Homo sapiens: one gene and its partner. The protein of the gene in region 2 interacts with the protein of the main gene of each other region in a pairwise test. Each region holds a gene or a part of one and is shown on either strand. Other genes may lie near its edges.

The links.
Region 1: the proteins of RBM5 (region 2) and MLYCD interact in binary tests that used the Homo sapiens proteins (3 or more experiments, as listed by UniProt).

Annotation. Positions count from the first base shown.
Region 1 is NC_000016.10:83,923,085-83,927,535, reverse strand, and holds the end of MLYCD (malonyl-CoA decarboxylase, mitochondrial), read right to left. Parts: 3' UTR 505-4,451; downstream 1-504. UniProt on the Homo sapiens protein: Catalyzes the conversion of malonyl-CoA to acetyl-CoA.
Region 2 is NC_000003.12:50,091,900-50,098,933, reverse strand, and holds part of RBM5 (RNA-binding protein 5), read right to left. Parts: intron 6,892-7,034; coding exon 6,726-6,891; intron 5,215-6,725; coding exon 5,059-5,214; intron 1-5,058. UniProt on the Homo sapiens protein: Component of the spliceosome A complex. Binds to ssRNA containing the consensus sequence 5'-AGGUAA-3'. Regulates alternative splicing of a number of mRNAs.

The DNA.
Region 1 (4,451 bases), on a different chromosome or scaffold from region 2:
TCTAACTGAAGTTTAATGCTGTTTTGTTTTTATATTACTTTTTACTTTTAGCTTCTACTTAATAAAAAAATCCAGCTTGTATTGATGGGAGGGATATAAAAAAATTGCGACAGTGCTCAGCAAATGACTGGTGTTTGGGACCCGTGGCCTCTAGATTTAGCGGAGTTTCGATCTGTGATCTGGGCTCCATGCCTGAGACAGAAAGTCATGCCCTCAGTCAGCCCGACTTGAGACCGATGTGAAGCGACTGGAGGGGGCCCTCTGGGACATTTGCAAATGACCACGCCCCTGCTGTACTGCAAACGACGACTGGGCAAGGAGGAGCTGACCACAGGAGGCTCGGACTGGGAGCCAGAAGATTCCCCCGGGGAAGCTTCAGAAAGCAGGAAGAGCAGCTGGTTTGGGCAGTCCCAAATGCCTGCTCTAGCTCTGAGTATCGTTACCTAATCCCTGTGAGAGAGTGGGGAGCGGCTGTGCAAGTTCCGAGTGCAGGTATGCTACCTGTTAGGATTTTATTTTTTTATTTTTATTTTTTTTTGAGACGTAGTCTCGCTCTGTCGCCAGGCTGGAGTGAGTGGCGCCATCTCGGCCAACTGCAACCTCCGCCTCCCGGATTCAAGCGATTCACCTGTTAGGAATTTTAACATTCAGCGCCCAAGCGCAGAGCAGAGGAGGCTGGAGGGGCGCAACACCGCCATCTCGCGGCGACGGGGTGCACAGCGCTTGCGAGGACCCAGACTGGGATCCATCTGTCCCAGAGACTCATTTTCAGCATCAAAGTGCGTCCCTGCGCTGTCCGTAAAGAGCCTGCCATGCGGCAGGTACCGCGCAGGACTCCAGACCTGCCTTATCTTTTGAGATCCCCACAGCCCCTGAAGGAAGGGACCACTAATATCAACATTCACAGGACGAAATCGGAGGTGTCCTTGTGTTCACAGCTGGGCAGCCCACCCAGCTCAAGGGGGGACTTGGGGAACGCTGTCTAGCCTGCGAGAGGTGGAAGTGGGCTCCTGAGAAGGGCGGCCGCGTGTGGCTTCACCGTCCCCTTTTGGGTTTAAAGGGAACTTCCCCGGATGGATTAGGTGTCACGGCAGCAGTGTGAGAATGGAAGCGCCCAAGCCCGTCCCCTCGGCCAGCCCCTTCAGCTCTCTGGGCCTCAGTGTCGTCACCCGTCAAACGGGGACAGGGACCCTCCTTCCCAGTGCAGGGTGGGGTCCGAGTGAGCTAGGGCAAGCCAGCGTTCAGTGCAGGGCAACTGGGGTCTGAGTCCTTGGGGAGCTGGGCTTGGAGAAAGTGAGATCTCGTGGGCTCTGGGAGGGAGGGCCTGTGCTCTGTTCCCACACAGCACCCCCAGCGGCAGGGCTCCTTGGGGAGGCCAGACCAGGGCCAGGCGTGGCCAGAAAGACCCTGCCTTTAAGGGGCTGTGGAACCCTGGGCAAGGAGTGTACCCAAGTAACCAGCGTGGCCCCAGGCCAGGGGTCCCCTCTGCAAGTGTCACATTGGAGGGGGCCCTGATGATCTTGCAGACCCTGCAGCCACCTCGGGCCAGAAGCGAAGCAGGGTCCCTGCCCTCAGAGAGCGTCTAGTCTAGTGGAGATACACACATGAAACTGCCTTGTTTAGAAGCTACCAGGAAGGAGAGGCCCCAGTGAGAAGACGGCAAATAAAGGGGGACTGTGACCTAGTCAAGCCACCAGGGAAATCTTCCTGAGGAGAGGACGATGGATGAACTTTGGAGGCAGAGTGGGCATTGCCTGGGAGGCAGGGAGGGGAGAGCGTTTCAAGAAGAGGGAGGAGCATGTGCCACGCAGGAAGGAGGGAGGACAGGGAGTCCCAGACTGAGGGAGGACAGTGCCAGGAGGGCCTGGAAAAGCAGAGGGGAGGGTCAGGCCACAGCAGGCTTGAGAGGCCACGGAGGGGGCTGTGTGTGACAGGGAGGGTGACGGGGATGGTGGGAGGTAGGAAAGGAGAGGAGAGATGGAACCTGATTTGCATTTCACAATGACAACTCTGCCTGCTGGGGTGGAGAAGGATCTGGAAGAGTCTGGCGTAGGCAGGTGGGCAGAGCACCTGCGAGGTTAGTTAATGCACATAATCAGGAAGGAGACTTTGTAACCTGGGCCAGGGAAATGAAGAGAACAAGGCCAGTGGTCTGTCCAGGGGCCCGGGGACGGGTGGGAGGTGGGGGTGAGGGGAGCCCCAGGGATGGCACCCAGGCTTCTGTGTTACACAGTTGGAGGTGGCCTCGCCAGGAAGGAACAGCTGGAGGAGGCCAGGTTTTGGAGGGAGGGCATCTGCATTCAGCCTTGGCCGTGCTGAGCCTGAGCTGCTGCTGAGCTATGCAGGGGAAACACACAGGTATGGGGTGTCTGTGTCACCAGTGAGGGGACTGTGCAAGTGACTGTCCTAACTGAACACTTCAGAGTGAAAAGAAGCTCTGTTAACAATGATGCCACACCAGGGCCCCAGACAGGGCCTGTCCCCGGCAAACAGGGGCACTAGTGCCCTTGCTATCGGTAGTTAGGAGACAGCAGAGACACGGATGGGGGTGAGATCCTTAGAGAAGGAGGGGACTCCCGGAAGCCGAGAGGAATGGCTGACTAAGAGTGGCGGAGCACAGGTGGGGATGGCCAAGAGGGTGTGCATCTGTGCCAGTGCCGGGAGCATTTGGGAAGTGCAGTGTGGCCCACGGTGGCCCCTGGCCATTGCTGAGGGGGAACCTGGCTGGATGTACCCCCTAGGAGGTCACCGGGGGCCTCGGTGAGAGCTGGCAAGGAGAGGTGGCATCGTGAGCCACACTGGGGTGGAGACTGCAAATGGCCAGTTCTCTCTGGAGCAGCGCCGCTTAAATAAACATGGCTCTGGCATCTTTGAAGGCAGCTCTCTGGTCTTCTCTCCTGCGAAAGTGCTCAAGGAGGCAGTAACTCACGTTCAGGGGGTGCTGTCTGAGCAGCAGGAGTGAGGGCTGCCTTTCTTCAGTGAACCAAAAATATTTGCCAAGCCTCTCCTATGTGCCAGGCGATGGAGACAGATTTACGGCAACAGACGTGAGAGAACAAGCCGGGGGTTCAAGCCTCTGTCACAGACGCACGGGAGCTTCAGAAGCAAGCGCTCCTGCTGGGTGGGATACGGCCCACTCCATCTCCCCCGCTCTAGGAACTGCCTGGGCCACTCATCTCCCCTCGTCAACATGAAGAGGTGACGCCAGCTGTTCTACTCAACTGCTCCGGAGAGACACCTGCTCTGGGTGCACTCACCACAGGGCCAGATCCCCCATCTCCAAACCGGGCCAACCATCGTTCCCACCACGGCCCGGGCTGAGTCTGGGGTCATGAGAGGAGGCTGTCTCTGTGGCGGCGGAGCTGTGCACTGCCTGCTTCCTGCACGAGAGCCAGGTCCGGGTTCCTCCTGTCTTCCCGTGGTCTGGCTGCCCCTCGCTGGCCTGGATTTTATGCTTTGGTGGGAGCTCAGCTTCTCTCCCTGGCAGCCGAGGGCTCGGACCGATACGGCCAGCACTGTGCATGCCCGGGTTTGAGAGAAGCCACCCCAGCCTGGGGTTGTCTTCCACAGACCCCCGCCCCCTTGCCAGAATGTCAGCACCCTAACACCCCCTGTCCTCAGTCTCTCAGCCCAGCCGGGCTACCTTTCTGACCTATTCCCCTCCAGGCTTGCCAAAACCTGCGGCCCACTCTGTTCTGCCCACTGCTGGCCTTCTCCTCTCTGGGCCTTTGCGTGGGTCTCCCCACGTACGGTCAGGAGGTGGACCAGTGCGGTGGAAGGAGAGCTGGGTGGTGGTCGGGCCTGGGTTTGAGTCCCAACTCTGCCCTCACCAGCTGCTCAGCCCTCTCCCAGCTCGCCGCCTCATCGCCTCATCTCTAAGTGAGGAACACTCGCTCCAGCTTCAGGGCTGGACACGGTGATCCTCTAGGGAAGGAGGCAGGCTGGAACCAGGAACGTGTACAGAGAATGCCTGGCCCAGAGCAGAGAATCTCGTTTCTCTCTGCCTTCCTCAATGATCAAGAACTAGCCAGGCGGGAAACGCAAATGCAATGTGGAAATAAACCAAACAAAGGCGAGACAGAGATCTAGGGTCACCTCTGTGAGTCCGCTAAACTGCAAATGAGGCAGACTTTCTGTGGTGAAATCATGGGCAGCTTTTGTTTCTAAGAGTAGATCAAAATGGACTTCATATTTCTGTAAGCGCCTCAGAATCCAATTGGAAATCACAGAGGTGTTTGCTCGATTTAAATCTTTAGTACACCTCATGTTTAATTTCAAACAGAGCTCAGAATAAGCACATGCCTGCACAGAGCACTGAGATTCCCTCACTTCTGAGGCCACACAGAACGAGGAGGAGGGAAGCCCTCTTGGGAGCAACTCTTGGTTGTTCTTGCCCTGGAGGTCAGTGAAGGTCAAGCCCTCAGAGGGAAGGAGGGATGGAGAGGGTAGAA
Region 2 (7,034 bases):
TATGATGTCTCAAGCCTCCATCCTTTAGTCTAATCTCCCTGTCCTTTGTTCTGCAGGATAGTACAGTGGCTCAAGCCTATAATCCTAGCGCTTTGGGAAGATGAGGCAAGATGAGCGCTTGAGCACAGGAGTGTGAGACCAGCCTGGGGAACACAGTAAGACCCCATCTGTATACAAAAATTTTAAAAATTAGGCCTCGCATAGTGGCTCACGCCTGTAATTCCAGCACTTTGGGGGGCCAAGGCAGGTGGATCACGAGGTCAAGAGATGGAGACCATCCTGGCTAACACAGTGAAATCCCGTCTCTACTAAAAATACAAAAAATCAGCCAGACGTGGTGGCACGTGCCTGTAGTCCTAGCTACTTGGGAGGCTGAGGCAAGAGAATCGCTTGACCCCGGGAGGCGGAGGTTGCAGTGAGCCGAGATCGCGCCACTGCACTCCAGCCTGGGCAAGAGTGAGACTCCGTCTCAAAAAAAAATAATAAAATAAAATAAAAATTACCCAAGCATGATGGTATACACCTGTAGTCCTAGTTACCTGGGAGGCTGAGGTGGGAGGACTGTTTAAGCCCAGGAGTTCGAGGTTACAATGGGCTATTGCACCACTGCACTCCAGCCTGGGTGACAAAGTGCAACCCTATCTTTAAAAAAATAAAAAAATAAAAATAAGGACTCAGATGAGATTTAAAAGAGGCAGTGGATGCGTCACTGTGCCCTGAAGTACGCCTAATCAAGAATAGCCTTCCTGCTCTTTGAGGCCTACTCTCAAAATAAGGAAAAAAATCAACAGCCAAAAAATGAAGAGCCTGATGATAAACTTTTTTTTAAATTTTTTTGAGATGGAGTCTCACTCTGTTGCCCAGGCTGGAGAGCAATGGCATGATCTCGGCTCACTGCAACCTCCGCCTCCTGGGTTCAAGCAATTCTGCCTCAGCCTCAAGAGTAGCTGGGACTACAGGCGCATGTCGCCACACCCAGCTAATATTTTATATTTTAGTAGAGAGGGGTTTCACCATGTTGCCCAGGCTGGTCTCCATCTCTTGGGCTCAGGTAATCCACCCACCTTGGCCTCCCAAAGTGCTGGGATTACAGGCGTGAGCCACCGCACCAGGCCAGGTAAACATTTTTAATGGATCATACTTTTCTTACAGTTAAATTATTGGTAAAAATTTTCAAAGTTCATCACATTCTTAGGCTCCTAATAAATCAAACATTAATTGGGGCTAGAATAAAGTATTCTGGCTGGTAGGCTTGTTCCAATGTCAGACCAACTCCTTTTTCCAAAAGGCCACAAAAATATACTAGTCTCTTCATCAATAATATCAGGCATGAATACTACCATGAAAAAAAAAACAGGGTGAAATTTGTGGAAACAAGATTCTCACTGGCCTCTACTTTCCATAACTAGGTGCAACGGCTGCAAGACTACACACAGCCAATCCTCATTATCCTCAGGTATCACACCTGTGAATTCAACCACTCATTAAAATTTCTAACACTCAAATCAATACTTGTAGCAGTTTCTTTTTTTTTTTTTTTGAGACAGTCTTGCTCTGTCGCCCAGGCTGGAGTGCAATGGCACGATCTCGGCTCACTGCAAGCTCCGCCTCTCAGATTCATGCCATTCTCCTGCCTCAGCCTCCTGAGTAACTGGGACTACAGGCGCCCGCCACCACGGCTGGCTAATTTTTTTGTAGTTTTAGTAGAGACAGGGTTTCACCGTGCTAGCCAGGATGGTCTCGATCTCCTGACCTTGTGATCCGCCTGCCTCAGAATCCTAAAGTGCTGGGATTACAGGCGTGAGCCACCGCACCTGGCCAACCCTCAGTAATATTCTTTTAGGCTTAGCTAGACTTTTGAGAACTCTAGCCCCTAGCCACAATAGCACTTTGCCACTCATCCCTCTCCTGCCAAAAGCCTCTGACTCCAGCCAAATCAAGCCGATTGCTAGGCCTTATCTAGATTCAGTACCTTTCTATTCCCTGCTCATGTGATACCCCTCCGCCTGAAGGGCCCATCTACCACACCATTCCCTTAGTTTTCCACGCCTATAATCCTAGCACTTTGGGAGACCCAGGCGGGAGGATTGATTGAAGACAAGAGTTCAAGACCAGTCTAGGCAATAAAGAGAGACCTTGTCTCTACAAAAAAAAAAACAAACGATAAAAAAAAAAATTAGCTCGGAGTGGTGACACATGCCTGTAATCCCAGCTACTTGGGAGGCTGAGGCTGGTGGATTGCCTGAGCCCCAAAAGTTGGAGGCTGCTGTGAGCCACAATCACGCGATTGCACTCCAGCCTATGCGACAGAGTAAGGCCCTGTCTCACAAAAATAAAAATAGAAGATTCCTTACCCTCCACTAGTAACAATTTCCTTTAAATAACCTTCAAGAGCTCTTAGGCAGACCTCTTTCAATAGGACCTTTTCCGACATGACCCTCTTTTTGAGACAGGGTCTTGCTCTGTCGCTCAGGCTGGAGTGCAGTGGCGTGAACACAACTCACTGTACCCTTGACCTCCTAGGCTCAAGTGATCTTCCTGCCTCAGTCTCCCAAGTAACTGGGACCACAGACAAGCGCCATTAAGACTGGCTATTTTTTTTTTTTTTTGGAGAGATGCGTCTTACCATGTTGTCCAGGTTGGACTTGAACTCCTGGGCTCAAGCACTCTTTTCACCTTGGCCTCCCGAAGTGCTGGGATTACAGGCATGAGTTACCATACTCGGCCTCTGACCCCTTTCTATTCTGCATTGTCACCATTATCTGCTGACCTTAGCTACTCATCCATAAGCTTTTTTGAGGCAAGATCCATAGCTCTGTGTCACTGTAGCATCTAACATGTACAGTGTAGCAGATGTGCAGTGGATCACAAATAATGGAATGATTACCCACTATTAACTCTAATATCCTGTCTCACATTTGTCACATTCATTACTTCCAGGGTTTAGAAACCCAAAGCTACGGGAATCCAATGCTTATTTTGAGCTTTATCCAAAATTCAACTAAACATTAGTCAGAATATTACTTTGATTACTCCAAGAAAACAAATACTGGCACACTGCTGTTTTAAAACCTCACATTCATTTTTACCAAGAGCACTGGCTGAGTAACATACTGTGTTCAAGGGTTGGGGACACAGAGGTGACTAGTTCACACAGAGGCCTATTTTCAGAGATCTTGTGGTAGAGATGAGACATGTGTGTTGATGGCTACAGTAAAGGTGCTACACAAAAGTCATGAATACAGTGCCTTAGGAAGAGAATAACGAAGAAGAAGCTCTGCCCGATAGATCAGGCTTTACATACAGGCGTCTCCAAGCAGAAAAAGGCACAACAGTAGAGCAATGGACATGTCCAAAGTCCAGGATGTGGAAAGTAGGGTGTGGCTGGAAGGAAGGGTGAGGACCAGAGATGCTGCTGGAAATCAGGCAGTGCCAAGTACACTAAGACTCTAATTGGCCAGTCTGAATGAGCCGTCCTTTTTAACAAGCTTTTCTGAGGTTTCAAATGGGTAGTTCAATTTTCAACAAATAAAAGGGTGGCCAGATTATAAAGAAAATTAGGTATTTACCAATCATCCTCATCTAATAAGTAACTAATTCAATAAAAATATATTGATTATCTTCTAGGAGCTAATGAAGACAGAAGACCTGCTCCCTGTGGTTAAAGACATTTAGAAAACTCATACATTGAGCTTCAAAGCCTAAATATGGTAATTTACTTCTTTTTGTTTTTGAGACAGGGTCTTGTTCTGTCACCCAGGCTGGAGTGCAATGGCGTGATCTTGGCTCATTGTAAACTCCGCCTCCCAGGTTCAAGCCATTCTCCTGTCTCAGCACCTCCCCAAGTAGCTGGGACTACAGGTATGCACCACCACACCTAGCTAATTCTTGTATTTTTAGTAGAGACAGGGTTTCACCATGTTGGCCAGGCTGGTCTCAAATTCCTGACCTCAAGTGATCCACCCGCCTCGACCTCCCAAAGTGCCTGGGATTACAGGCATGAGCCACCGCGCCTGGCCAAAATGGTAACTTACTTCTGAACCTAGTTCAGTGAACTTTTCCCTAAAGACAGAAAAATATTTCACTAGCTGAGATAGATACAGGTTGAGCAACCCTAATCCAAAAATTTGAAATGCTCCAAAATCTGAAATTTTCTGAGCACTAACATGACACAACAAGTGGAAAATTCCACCCCTGACCTTATTTGAAAGGTCACAGACAAGAGGGCAGTCAAACCTTTTAGTCCAGGCAACATACTTAGCCCAGCCTGGCTCTACAAAAAATAAATTAGCTGGGTGTGGTGGCATGCACCTGCCAGCTACTGAAGTAAAAAGATCACTTGAGCCCAGGAGTTTGAGGCTGCAGTGAGCTATGATTGCATTGCTATACTCCAGACTGGGTGACAATGAGACCCTGCCTGTAAAAAACAGAAACAAAAATATCACAAACAAAAAAACAAAGCACACATTGTTTTGTGTATAAAATTATTTAAAGTGTTGGCCGGGCAAGGTGGCTCACGCCTGTAATCCCAGCACTTTGGGAGGCCGAGGCGGGTGGCAGGAGATGGAGACCACAGTGAAACCCCGTCTCTACTAAAAATACGAAAAAAGTTAGCCGGGTGCGGTGGCGGGCGCCTGTAGTCCCAGCTACTCAGGAGGCTGAGGCAGGAGAATGGCGTGAACCCGGGAGGCAGAGCTTGCAGTGAGCCGAGGTTGTACCACTGCACTCCAGCCTGGGTGACAGAGCAAGACTCTGTCTTAAAAAAAAAAAAAAAAAATTATTTAAAGTGTTGTATAAAATTACCTTTGGCATGTATAAGACATATACAAAATACAAATGAATTTCATGTTTAGACTTATGTAAATGCAAATGTTTAAACTTATGTAAATGCAAATATTAAAAAAAAATATCAAAACAGTTCTGGTCCCAAGCATTTTGGATAAGGGATACTCAACCTCTATTGGCTTAAGATAAAACAATAGCATGAGAAAATAATGGTAGAAGCTCAAAGTTCATTGTGCCTACTGACTGCTGGTTATAACTGTCATTTCCCCTTACATCGCTCTCTGTGATGGTGATGGGAAGGCCGCGCAGCATGATGGTCTTGCTCTCCCTCTCGTCACTGATGTCATGCCTATAGTCGTGCTCACCATAGTCACCATCTGAATGGTAGCCATCTTCGGATCGGTCACTGTTCCTTCTTTCACGCTCTCTCTGAGTTACAATAAACAAAATCACAATTAACATCACCCTGTACTCTTTGAAACAGACCCTCCACTCCTAGAAATTATCCTTAGCAGGAAGTGTACAGAGATTACACAAGCACTCCATGGTAATGTTCACTGCAATTTTTTTTTTTTGAGACAGGGGTCTCACTATGTTACCCAGGCTGGTCTGAACTCCTGGCCTCAAATGACCCTCCTGCTATGGCCTCCCAAAGTGCTGGGATTATAGGCACACCCAGCCTGCTGTGTTTTCTTTTTTTTTTTTTTTGAGACAGTTTCACTCTTATTGCCCAGACTGGAGTGCAGTGGTGCGATGATCTCTGCTCACTGCAACCTCTGCCTCCTGGGTTCAAGCAATTCTCCTCCTTCAGCCTCCCGAGTAGTTGGGACTATAGGCACTTGCCACCACGCCCAGCTAATTTTTTGTATTTTTAGTAGAGACAGGGTTTCACCATGTTAGCCAGGATGGTCTCAATCTTCTGACCTCATGATCCGCCCGCCTCGGCCTCCCAAAGTGCTGGGATTACAGGCGTAAGCCACCGTGCCGGCCTTCTGGTTTTTTTTTTTTTTGAGACAGAGTCTCCCTCTGTCGTCCATGCTGGAGTGCAATGGCATGATCTCAGCTCACTGCAACCACTGCCTCCCAGGCTCAAGCAATTCTCGTACCTCAGCCTCCTGAGTAGCTGAGGTCGCACCACTGCACTCCAGCCTGGGTGACAAGACTAAAAAGCTGTCTCAAAAAAAAAAAAAAAAAAAAAAAAAAAAGATATATCAAGATGACCAAAACAACAACTTATATTTATTATTTTTCATTATTATTATTTTAAAGACAGGGTCTCCCTATGGTGCCCAGGCTGGCCTCTAACTCCTGGGCTCAAGGGATCCTCCTGCCTCGGCCTCCCAAATTGTTGGGATTACAGGTGTGAGCCACTGTGCCTGGCCAACAACTTATATTTATCATTCATTTCAAAACACAGAACTAATATGTTATCATAACCCCATTGTTTCATCTTTAAAATGGGAATAACACCTACCTTATCAGGTTGTACTGAGACCTAAATGAATTCATGAAGTCAAGTGCTCAAAAGTACATGGTGATCCCTATGTAAACCCTGGCCATTATTTCTTTTCTTTTTTTTTTTTTTTTGAGATGGAGTCTTGCTTTGTCACCCATGCTGGAGAGCACTGATACAATCTCAGCTCACTGCAACCTCCGCCTCCCAGGTTTCAAGTGATTCTCTTACCTCAGTCTCCCAAGTAGCTGGGATTACAGGCGCCCACCACCCCACTCAGCTAATTTTTGTATTTTTAGTAGAGACGGGTTTTACTATGTTGGCCAGACTGGTCTTAAACTCCTGACCTCAAGTGATCTGGCCGCCTTGGCCTCCCAAAGTGATAGGATTATGGGAAGGGGCCACTGGACCTGGCTGCCTGGCTGTTATTTCTATTACTATAAGGCTCAGAGTGTTTTGGGGGGTTATACAGCCGCTGGTCACTCACCTCTGGACTGTCATAGTCTCGGTAGTCATCATATCTATCACCCCTCCGATCATCACTAGATCTTTTGTAATCTGAGTCCCTCCGCCTGCTTCGGGATTCACGCTCATCACGGTCATCCCTGTCTATGATGGAACCGTATCTTCCACTACGCTCTGTTCTACTCACTCTGCCAGGGAAAATAATTTTCATTCTAAAGTCAGTCACATTTTGTACCTTTAAAAGACATAGTTAAAAATACACACGGCCCACAGATCAGTTTATAAGATAATCCAAATAGTTTAAAGTGTTAAAAAGTATTACCAAATTCCA